Homo sapiens: one gene and its partners. The protein of the gene in region 1 purifies or fractionates together with the protein of each later gene. This does not show direct contact. Each region holds a gene or a part of one and is shown on either strand. Other genes may lie near its edges.

The links. Proteins that work in one complex are often made in the same cells at the same time.
Region 2: the proteins of STK31 (region 1) and FAM114A2 purify together in Homo sapiens (affinity purification with mass spectrometry; one large-scale study listed by BioGRID and IntAct). This does not show direct contact.
Region 3: the proteins of STK31 (region 1) and HIGD1A purify together in Homo sapiens (affinity purification with mass spectrometry; one large-scale study listed by BioGRID and IntAct). This does not show direct contact.

Annotation. Positions count from the first base shown.
Region 1 is NC_000007.14:23,716,719-23,720,218, forward strand, and holds part of STK31 (serine/threonine-protein kinase 31), read left to right. Parts: intron 1-762; coding exon 763-861; intron 862-3,500.
Region 2 is NC_000005.10:154,004,411-154,007,910, reverse strand, and holds part of FAM114A2 (protein FAM114A2), read left to right. Parts: intron 1-3,500.
Region 3 is NC_000003.12:42,790,991-42,794,490, reverse strand, and holds part of HIGD1A (HIG1 domain family member 1A, mitochondrial), read left to right. Parts: intron 1-191; exon of another isoform or gene 192-215; coding exon of another isoform or gene 216-237; coding exon 238-334; intron 335-3,500. UniProt on the Homo sapiens protein: Proposed subunit of cytochrome c oxidase (COX, complex IV), which is the terminal component of the mitochondrial respiratory chain that catalyzes the reduction of oxygen to water. May play a role in the assembly of respiratory supercomplexes.

The DNA.
Region 1 (3,500 bases):
TTGGCCATTGGGACAAAGTTCACCAAAGAATACAGATTGGTACTTGTCCTTAAACGTCTCCTATTCTTTTTTTGAGCACTTTTTTTTTTTTTTTTTTCAAGACAGGGTCTCCGTCACCAAGGCTAGAGTGCAGTAGTGTGCTCATGGCTCATTGCAGTCTCGAACTTCTGGGCTCAAGCAATCCTCCCACCTCATCTTCCTGTGTAGTTGGAACTATAGGTGCACACTACCATGCCCGGCTAATCTTTTGTATTATTTTTGTAGAGACAGGATTTCACCACATTGCCAAGCTAGTCTCAAACTCCTGGGCTCAAAAATGATCCTCCCACCTCGGCCCTCCAAAGTGATGGGATTACAGGTGTGAGCCATCGCAACCTGCTTTTTTTTTTTTTTTTTTTTTTTTTTTTAGCATTTCTTTACTTTCTGGCACCATCAAATGTCCCAGGATCATCTTTTATTTCCCAGTTTGAGCTCTGCAATCAAATCAATCTTTAAGGAATCCTTTCCATATGATTTAATTATATTTGGTATCTTGTTTGAATTCTACCTAATTTGAACACATTGGGAAGTAAACTTTTTCTATGGCCTAGTCTCATTTCTTATAAATAACTCATTTAAATTATGAAAAAATACAGGCATAAGAAGTTGATTTAATTTCTAATGGCCTAAAATCTTTTAAGTTTATCATGCTTAGAACCCTCAAGCGTGTAACACTGTAAAATAATATTTTACTGTATCTTATACTATATCTAATCTTTCTAGAGTATCAATAGAAATAAGGATATCATGAAGATTGGTTGCTCACTGTCTGAAGTTTGCCCCCAGGCCAGTTCAGTTTTGGGGAATCTTGACCCAAACAAGGTGAGCCATATTCTTGAATATAATTATTTCATTCCTCCTGTCAGCTTTCCTGTGTCTTAGATATTTAGTTTTTGGAGTTCCTGGTATATTTGAAAAGAAGAGGCTGATTTTTGGAATTTGTATAAACTACTGTTATGGTATATTTATTAATTCAAAAATACTTATGGACTGAATATTACTCAGTCTTGAAATTTGACGTAAGCTACAACATGGATGAATCTTCAGGACATTAGCTAAATAAGCCAGTCACAAGAGGACAAATACTGTTATGGTTCTACTTGTATGAAGTACTTAGAGTAGTCAAAATCATAGAGACAGAAAAAGTGAGTGATGGTTATCAGGGACTGGGGGAAGATTGAGGATGAGGAGTTATTGATTAATGGGTGTAGAGTTTCAGTTTTACAACATGAAAAGAGCTATGGAGATGGATGATGAATGGTGGCGAAGGTTGCAGAACAGTATGAATGTACTTAATGCCACTGAACTGTATACTTAACAATGGTCAAGATAGTCAATTTTATGTTATGTATAGTTTACTACAGTTAAAAATAGGAAAAGTAGAATTAAAAGCTACACTATTCTAGCCAAAAAAACAAAAGTGAAGAAAACGTATGTACTGTCTGCCATGTACCTGGCACTGTATTAAGCATTAAGTAAGTATGCAGTGGTGAACAAACTAGATTCCTTGCATTTGACTTTGATTCACAAAAAATTTGTAAGATGCATCTTTATGCAGAGCAATTTGGCTTTTTTCTTTTTTACTGAGTTATAACTTGTATACAGTAAGGTATATATCTCTTAAGATCCTAAGTATATAGCTTGGTGAGTTTTTACGTGTGTATGTATCCATGTAACCACCATCCAGATCAACATATGGTTCTATCATTTCAGAAAATTCCTTCGGGCCCCTTCTCAGTCAATTCTTAGTCAGTAGTTTCTCCATCAGAGGTATAACCCTCATTTTGATACTATCACCATAGATTCGTATGTCTGTTCTTAAATCATGGAGTATGTAGTTTATTGTATGTATCTGGCTTCTTTTGTTCAACATAATTTCTGAGATTCATTTATATTGTTGTGTGTATTAGTGTATTGGTAGTCTGTTCTTTTTTAAGCTATTTAACATTCATTGTATAAATATAACACAATTTATCGATCTGTTCTCCTTTGATGGGCATTTGGATTTTTTGCAGTTTTTAACTACTCTGAATGAAACTGCCGTGAAATCCTTATATAAGTCTTCTGCTGGATGTATTGACTCATTTCTTTTGCACATATATCTAGAGTAGAATTGCTAAATTGTAGGGTAGACATGTTTCTGCCAAAGTAGATACTGCCAAACAGCTTTGCAAAAGTGTTGAACCAATTTACATTCTTATCAGCAATTTATGAGAGTTATAGTTCCTCGATATCCTCACCAGCCCCCTGCTTTGCTAGTGTACTGAGGTTGTGTTTTAATATTTTTATTAGCCCTTTGGAAGGGGTCTTGTGAAGTACCTATTCACATCTTTTCCCCATTTTTAAATTAGGTTATTTGTCTTGATTGATTTGTAGGCATTCTGTATGTTTTTTTCACTTTAATTTTCATTTTTGTTTCTACCTCTTAAAGTCAATGATAAAGTCACAACTGTAAAATGAATGCATTTAAAAAATAAAAGATATATTTCAATGACAAAAAGTATGCAATGATCATGAAAATCTACTGTACACTTTGCCAAGGCCAAAGAATGAAAGACAATATGAAAAAGCCAATCTTCAAATATATCCTCAACAAAAACTCCCTCCTAAATAGTAAAATTATCATTTAAGAATATTTGTCTTTACACATCTAAACAGAAGCTCTAACCAAAAAAAAAGTGGGGGAAAGGGCAGATGATAACTCTCCACAAGTTTTCCAGATATAAACATGTGGTCACCAGGAATTCAAGATTAAACTTCTAAAGCAACATTTAACTCAAAATAAAGTGAACATTTCTGACAGGTGACAACAGTAGTATGAAACTGATTTTTCCTTTCCTAAATAGAAATGAGATGGGGCATTTCAGTAATCATCTAAGAATAACTGTAGAAATACTCCCAATTCTACCACCCCACCCACTGGTATAAAACAGATACCTTCCATGAAAGTATCTTTCACATTACTGAAATATCCTCACTTACTTGGGACAATTTCATGCTTAGATGAGTATAAACACTTGTTTTTAGGTGTGTGGAATTATTGGAGCTGAGATTTTTGAAACAATATCTGAATCTTAGCAGAGATATAATAATACTTTCACTATACATTGATTGGGCTTCCTTAACCAAATCTGAGCAACTACTGTAATAACAATGCTGGTGGTAGTCCATGATACTCTCAAATTTTTTCCCTTTAAGAAATATATAATCCATGTAATACTAGTAAATATGTTACATTGTACACCTTCTTAACAAAGAATGTCTGTTTTCAGGCCTTACTAGGAAAACAAACAAACAATGGCAGTTACTGCCTGTTTTTATCACTGATAAGCTACAATAAAGCTCAAATGATGGATGGTTTACGTGTGTGATATTAAGTACAAAATGAAAGCCATTATAATTTTACCAAAAGAAACACGAAAAATATGGGAAGAAGTGAAATGAACATGGCATGGGTCCCA
Region 2 (3,500 bases), on another chromosome or scaffold:
ATTTTTTTCTATCTGTGAGGTGAGTTGTAATAATGTAGAGTTCCTGTGAGGTTTAAATGTGTTCACACACATAGCTCTTACAAAGGGCCTGGCTCATAGTAAATAAATGCTCACTGTTGATGGCTCCACAGAAGACAGCCCGATGTCCTCTACATGTAGCTGTTCAATAAATATACATATGTGTTCAATAAACCTTTATTATGCTTAGTAATTTGCTAGGTGCTAGGGAAATAATCATGAAAAAGACATAGTTTACATGCTTAATGAGAGATCACATTAATACGTATTTTTGTAAGGCCAGTAACTCCTTATCTGTCTGGCAGTTCTCGCCATTCTCTGAAAGCAATCTTCAGATTGTTTAAATTTTAGGCATTGAGACTTAAGATGTAGATTGGTTAAGGATCAAGGCCTTAACCATTGGCCCTCAAAAGATTTATATGGCAGGCTGTGATGTAGGGGAAAGAGCACTGAATTAGGAGTCCGGGAATATGATTCTGTGATTCTGATTCTTGTTCTAATACTCACATGTGGTGTGGCCTGGGGCAAATTCATTTTCTTCTGTGGGCCTCATTATTTTTCTGTTGGAAATAAATAAGCTTTTGGAGAAGCCAAGTTCAAAGGTACCTATTGAGATCTGCAGATCTCAACAAGTGGGAAGTTCCAGACTGAAATGTGGTCGTGGATGACATTAATTATTTTGGGAAAGGATAATAAATTACCTTGAGTTGGCACAATAGTTCATGATGATTTCACTTAATATATTTATTACAAGAGAGGTCACTTTGGGTATGCTCTATGCCTACTAAAATATCTCCTGGCCAGGCGCGGTGGCTCACGCCTGTAATCCCAGCACTTTGGGAGGCCAAGGTGGGTAGATCATGAAGTCAGGAGTTCAAGACCAACCTGGCCAAGATGGTGAAACTCCGTCTGTATTAAAACTACAAAAATTAGTCAGGCGCAGTGGCAGGTGCCTGTAATCCCAGCTACTCGGGAGGCTGAGGCAGGAGAATAGCTTGAACCAGTGTGGCAGAGGTTGCAGTGAGCTGAGATCATGCCACTGCACTCCAGCTTGGGCGACAGAGTGAGACTCCATCTCAAAAAAAAAAAAAAAAAATCTCCTTTGGGTATATTAAATTTATGGTATCCGTTTTTTCTTTTATGTGGTCTATCACTCTCCATTTTTCTTTTTTAATCTCTGATAAATTAATCCTTCATTTTTTTACTCAATTTGTCTCTTCAAAGATATTGCAAAGAATTTAACATATTGTTTGTATTATTAGTCAACTGTTATGATTCTTTCCAGCCTCATCTCTCAGTGTTCTCTTCTGTAAACCTCACTACTCCAACCTAATTTTCTGTCACACTCCTCATCCTCTATATTCTTCCTTACTGGCCTTTATTCTGTTTCTCAGGTGTACCAAGCTGATTTCCCTGTGCTTACAACTCTCTTTGCCTAACTATTTGTATGGCCAATTCCTTCAGATTTCAGCTGAAACATAACTTTTCAGAGACCCTTCCTGACCACCCAAACTCAAGCCACCTTCTACCCATACCCACCGTTACTCCATTTTATTTTCTTTATGTATGTTTTTGTTTGTTTGCTTGCTAATTGCCTTATTAGGAGAGAGAAGAGCAGACTCCTAGTTTGTATTATTCACCATTGAATCCCCAGCACTGGCACAGTGTTAGTATATATTTGCAATAAATGAATGAGTAAAATGCCAGTATCCTATATTTTGGTCTTGCTAGATATCTCACTGTTTGCCTACACACTTTGCATTTTTCTGTTTCCAAGCCTTTATATAGTTCATGCTGTTTGGTGTTTTGAATTTGAGAGGTTAATGCTTAAGTAATGGGAAGGTATAGATCAGAGCTAGATTGTTCCTGAATGTTTTTGTGGGAGGATATAGGGAAAGAACCCTACAGTGAAATTCTGGGAACACAGGTCTGCTTTAGCTCATTCGGGTAGCCTTGGGTGTAGCCCCACTTGCTGATCCTTCAAGGCCTAACTCCAGTACTGTATGTGTAATAAAACCTGTTTTCTCAGTTAGAATGACTCTCAAAGTCTTCTCTGGATTCCTATTACCTCATGACAGCTTTGAACACATTCTGTGTATGTAAAGTTAATAAACTAGGTGGTAATAAACAGTTTCTGAGAAACCAGGACTCTTTCACTTGCAAATGACAGAAACTCAAGTTAAGAAACTTAAAAAATAACAGAAACTAATTTAAAAGAGGGGAATTCAGTAGCTCAAGAAAATAGAAAATCAAGGAGCAGAACTGGCTTCAGGCATGGCTCTATTCAGGAACCTATCTCTATCCCTATCTGTGTCTTTCGGCTTGCTTCCTTTTTGTTTTGGCTTCATTCTTAGGGAAGCTTTTCCATATGGTGGTAAAATGACCATTGGCAGCTTCAGGGTGGGTGACTTTTTTCCATTTCGGTAACTCTTACTGAAAGAACACTTCTTTTTGCTGATAATTTTACCAGATGTCCTGAGACTGATGTCCATTGATCTGGCTTGGGTTACTTTTTAATCTATGCACCACTTACTCTGTGGACAGGGGTATTAGTATTCTCAGTAGCTAAATCTGAATGGTTTGCCAACTTTTGGAGCCAAAAGATGGAAGCAGCTGCACCCAGGTCACATGAACTAAGGAGAATCTAGAACCTGCCACCAAAAGAAAGGAGATATGGGTGCTGGTCATATCCATATCCAAAACAGTAGATGTTCTTCACAGTGTGCTGGACACTGGGTGTGCAAAGCCAAATAAAACACTCTCTAGCTATCCTATAATACATAGTTTAGTTAGGAAACAGATAATTCTACTATATTTGGTTAAGTTCTGAATTTAAGTTACCTGAAAGAGATGATGTCTGGGTAGAGGATTGAAAGAACAAGTACAGTAGAGGTCATTCTTACCAGAAGATAAAGTGGAAAATGATAAGAGATGAGGCTGGAAAAGTAGGTAGGGTCTAGGTCATGGAGACCTGTTACATCATGTAAAGAGCATGATCTAGTTGATGAGGAGCCATTGAAGGAAAGAGGAATGGTCAGCCCTGGGCTTAAGACAGATCACTGGTAGCATTTTGGAAGATAGATTTAAGATAAACAGATCAGAAGCAGAGAGACCAGTCATGAAGTGGATCTGAACTCAAGTAGTGGTAATAGGGAGGAGGAAGACGGGAAGAGGATGATGAGGGGCTTGGATAAAATCAGACCATCTTGGTGATTGGTTGGAGAGGAAAAAAATCTAAGATGGCCCCTATATTTTGGCTCAGGTAACTGGTACCTGGTGGCACCTCTAAAACTTTGGGAAATAAAAGAGGTTGAAAAATTTGGGGTAAGAAGAGAAAGACAATGAGTTCAAAGTTTTTATTTGTTGTATGTGTGATGCCTGCAGAGTATTTTGTCTAGCAGACATTTGGAATAAGTTTTCAGGAGAGGTCAGGTCTAGAAATAAGGATCTAAGAGTCAACAGCAGGTTGAGGATAGTTGAAA
Region 3 (3,500 bases), on another chromosome or scaffold:
CAAAATAATAGGGGGAATAAGTGTATACAACTCTCCCTTGAGAGTGACTGTACATTAAAAATACAGTTAATTTCTAAAAATATTTTTTAACTTTAGGATTATGGATAACATATACTAAGATTCTCATGGAAGTTAGGAATATTTTAAATACATCCAGATATTTAATAATGTTCAGATGCTTTTAATTACAGAACCTCATAGAAATTCTTTCTCAGGGAGATTCTTCAAGCAATCACTATGTCAACAGACACAGGTGTTTCCCTTCCTTCATATGAGGAAGATCAGGGATCAAAACTCATTCGAAAAGCTAAAGAGGCACCATTCGTACCCGTTGGTAAGTTTGACTGACATTTTAGTAGTCTTGAATATGGTAGAGCCGTGATAATTTGTTCATTTAGCAATATCCTGAAAGAATGTATTTTCCATTTTTTTCTTATGTTGAAATATGCTGAGATTGGCATGATATAAATCTCATCATAAAGATTCTTCTGTATGTATTCAGACTTTTTTTTTCTTTTTGGAGACAGGGTCTCTTTCACCTAGACTGAAGTGCAGTGGCTTGATCATAGCTCACTGCCCCCATCCCTCGACCTCTCAGGTTCTTGATCCTCCCACCTCAGCCTCCTAAGTAGCTGGGACCACAGGTGTGCACCACCACGCCCAGCGAATTTTTGTAGTTTTGTATAGACACGGGGTTTTGCGATACTGCCTAGGCTAGTCTTGAACTCCTGGGCTCAAGCAATCCGCCTGCCCTCAGCCTAGTGCTAGGATTATAGGCGTGAGCTGCCACTCCAGCTGAGACTTCTTATTTTATTGAGTCTTATTTCAGTGCATAATGTTGTATTGGGGGACCCCAAGACCATCCTCAGGTTAGATGATTGGGCCAAGACTCATAAGACTCAAAAATGCTTGTTACAGTCATAGTTTATTACAGCAATGGGATATAGGTTAAAGTCAACAAAGACATATAGAATGAAGTGTAGGATAAACCAGACACAAAATTCTAGGTGTCCCCTTCCCAGGGAGTCCCACAGGGGGAGAGGGGGTGCATTTAATTCTTCAGTACTGATGTGATATGTGGCAATACATGCTAAGTCTTGCCATCTAGGGAAGCCCACCAAGCCTTGGTAACCAGGTTTTATTGAGGTGTCAGCTGTGACTGAAATTAGCTATTCAGTCTCCTATCCCCCAGAGGTCGGACTCGCAGGCATATTAAAATTCATTTAATATGCAGTTAAAACAGATGAAAGGTGAAATTTATAGTATATAAATTAATCTTAAGAAAAAGTTTAAAAATTTTTAATCTTACAGAGAATTTTAAAATTACCTTTAATGCCACCATTTAGATATAACTGTTGTTACCATTTTGATGTACATATTTCTCCAGTTGTTTTTTCTTTTTTTATCTTCACAAATTCAGGATCATACTAAGATGCATATATGTATTATAATTTTTATCTCATGTTTTTAACTATGTTATTCGAAACTCGACTTTTTTTTTTTTTTCCGAGAAGGAGTTTCACTCTTGTTGCCCAGGCTGGAGTGCAGTGGCGCGATATCGGCTCACTGCAACCTCCACCTCTTGGGTTCAAGCGATTCTTCTGCCTCAGCCTCCTGAGTAGCTAGAATTATAGGTGCCCGCCGCCACGCCAGCTAATTTCTTTGTATTTTTAGTAGAGATGGGGGTTTCATCATGTTGGCCAGGCTGGTCTCGAACTCCTGATCTCAGGTGATCCACCTGCCTCGGCCTCCCAAAGTGCTGGGATTACAGGTGTGAGCCACCGTGCCTGGCCTAAAACTCTACTTTTTTTTTTTTTGAAACGGAGTCTTGCTCTGTCGCCCAGGCTGGAGTGCAGTGGCAGGATCTTGGCTCACTGCAAGCTCCGCCTCCCGAGTTCACGCCATTCTCCTGCCTCAGCCTCCCGAGTAGCTGGGACTACAGGTGCTCGCCACCACGCCTGGCTAATTTTTTCTATCTTTTAGTAGAGACAGGGTTTCACCGTGTTAGCCAGGATGATCTCGATCTCCTGATCTTGTGATCCGCCCGCCTCGGCCTCCCAAAGTGCTGGAATTATAGGCGTGAGCCACCGCGCCCGGCCAAAACTCCACTTTTAAGAATGACTTAATTTATATGATATAAATTACTGTTGTATATAACATTATTATAATCCTCTTGGTAGAAATTTATGTGATTTCTAATTTTTCATTATTAACAATTAAACTACTGAGCATCCTTTTAGATGGCTCTCCAAGAAGTTAAAGGACTTTGAAGTCTCTTGAAGGAATTTTTCTTCTGACCATATAATTAATAAGTTAGTTGCAAAAGTACATAAAACAGAAAGGTACCATGTCCTATGATCCCGACTCTGAAAGACAACAGCAGTCTGCACAGTCTGTCAGTGTTTTCTTCTCTGTGTACTACCATAAACTATTATTTATAATTATTTTTAGATGAAATATTTTTCTTTAGCCTTGTTCATTATCTTTTTATAACAATGCATATAGGAACATTTATATTTTTAATAATTGAATCATTAATTTTGTAGATATACAATGTTTTGTAACAGTGATCTATAAAATTTTTTGGTTGTATATTCCCTCAGTAAAAAATAATTTGAGCACGTACTTCCTGCCAGTGTGTTGTGTGTTTACCTATTTTTAAGTCATTTATGACTTTTAAGTCATTTAAGTCATTATGAAATACGCAGAAAGACATTTCAAAAGGATAAGATACAAATATAAAATTTTCTGCTCTTTAATGGGTTGTCATTTATACATATCCCTTCTTGGGAGTACATAAACCCTACATTGATTTAACCATTGCTGTATTGACGACATAGGAGTTGTTCCCATTATGTTGATTTTACAAACTGTTGGAAGACTGTGTGTGTAAAAATTAAATATCCTTATATACTTAATTGTACCAAAACAATGATTTACACCAATAGGCTGTGATGGGCTGGTTTTCCCATACTCTCAGTAGCACTAGATATTATCATTCTTTGAGCATCTTTTCATATGTATTGGTCATTCAGGCTTCTCTTCTGTGAATTAGCTTTTTTGTTTTTGCTTTTGTTTCTGTTTTAACTAGGATGTCTTTTTCTAATTAAATTATAATTATGTATTTTAGGTATTAATGTTTTCTTAATATGTTGCAAGGCCTTCATGATCCTGGGATTACTTAGGTTCCTGTATTTCCTTATGTTGTGCATTTATCATTGAGATACTAATCTATCTGGAATTTATTTGTAGGTATGACATGAGGCAAAATCTAACTTATTTTCCGTATGGATACTTTAATTTTCTATCACAGTGATTTGGGTATCTGTTTTGCATTCTTTTTCCACTTATTTGAAATGTGAACTATGTCATATACTAAACATATGAGAGATTTGTTACTCAACTACTGTATGTATTTTGTTGCTTTGATCTGTCTGCCAGAAACTTAGTGGTATGTTTAGATACCTCATAAGCCAGTACACTTTCACTATTCTACCTTC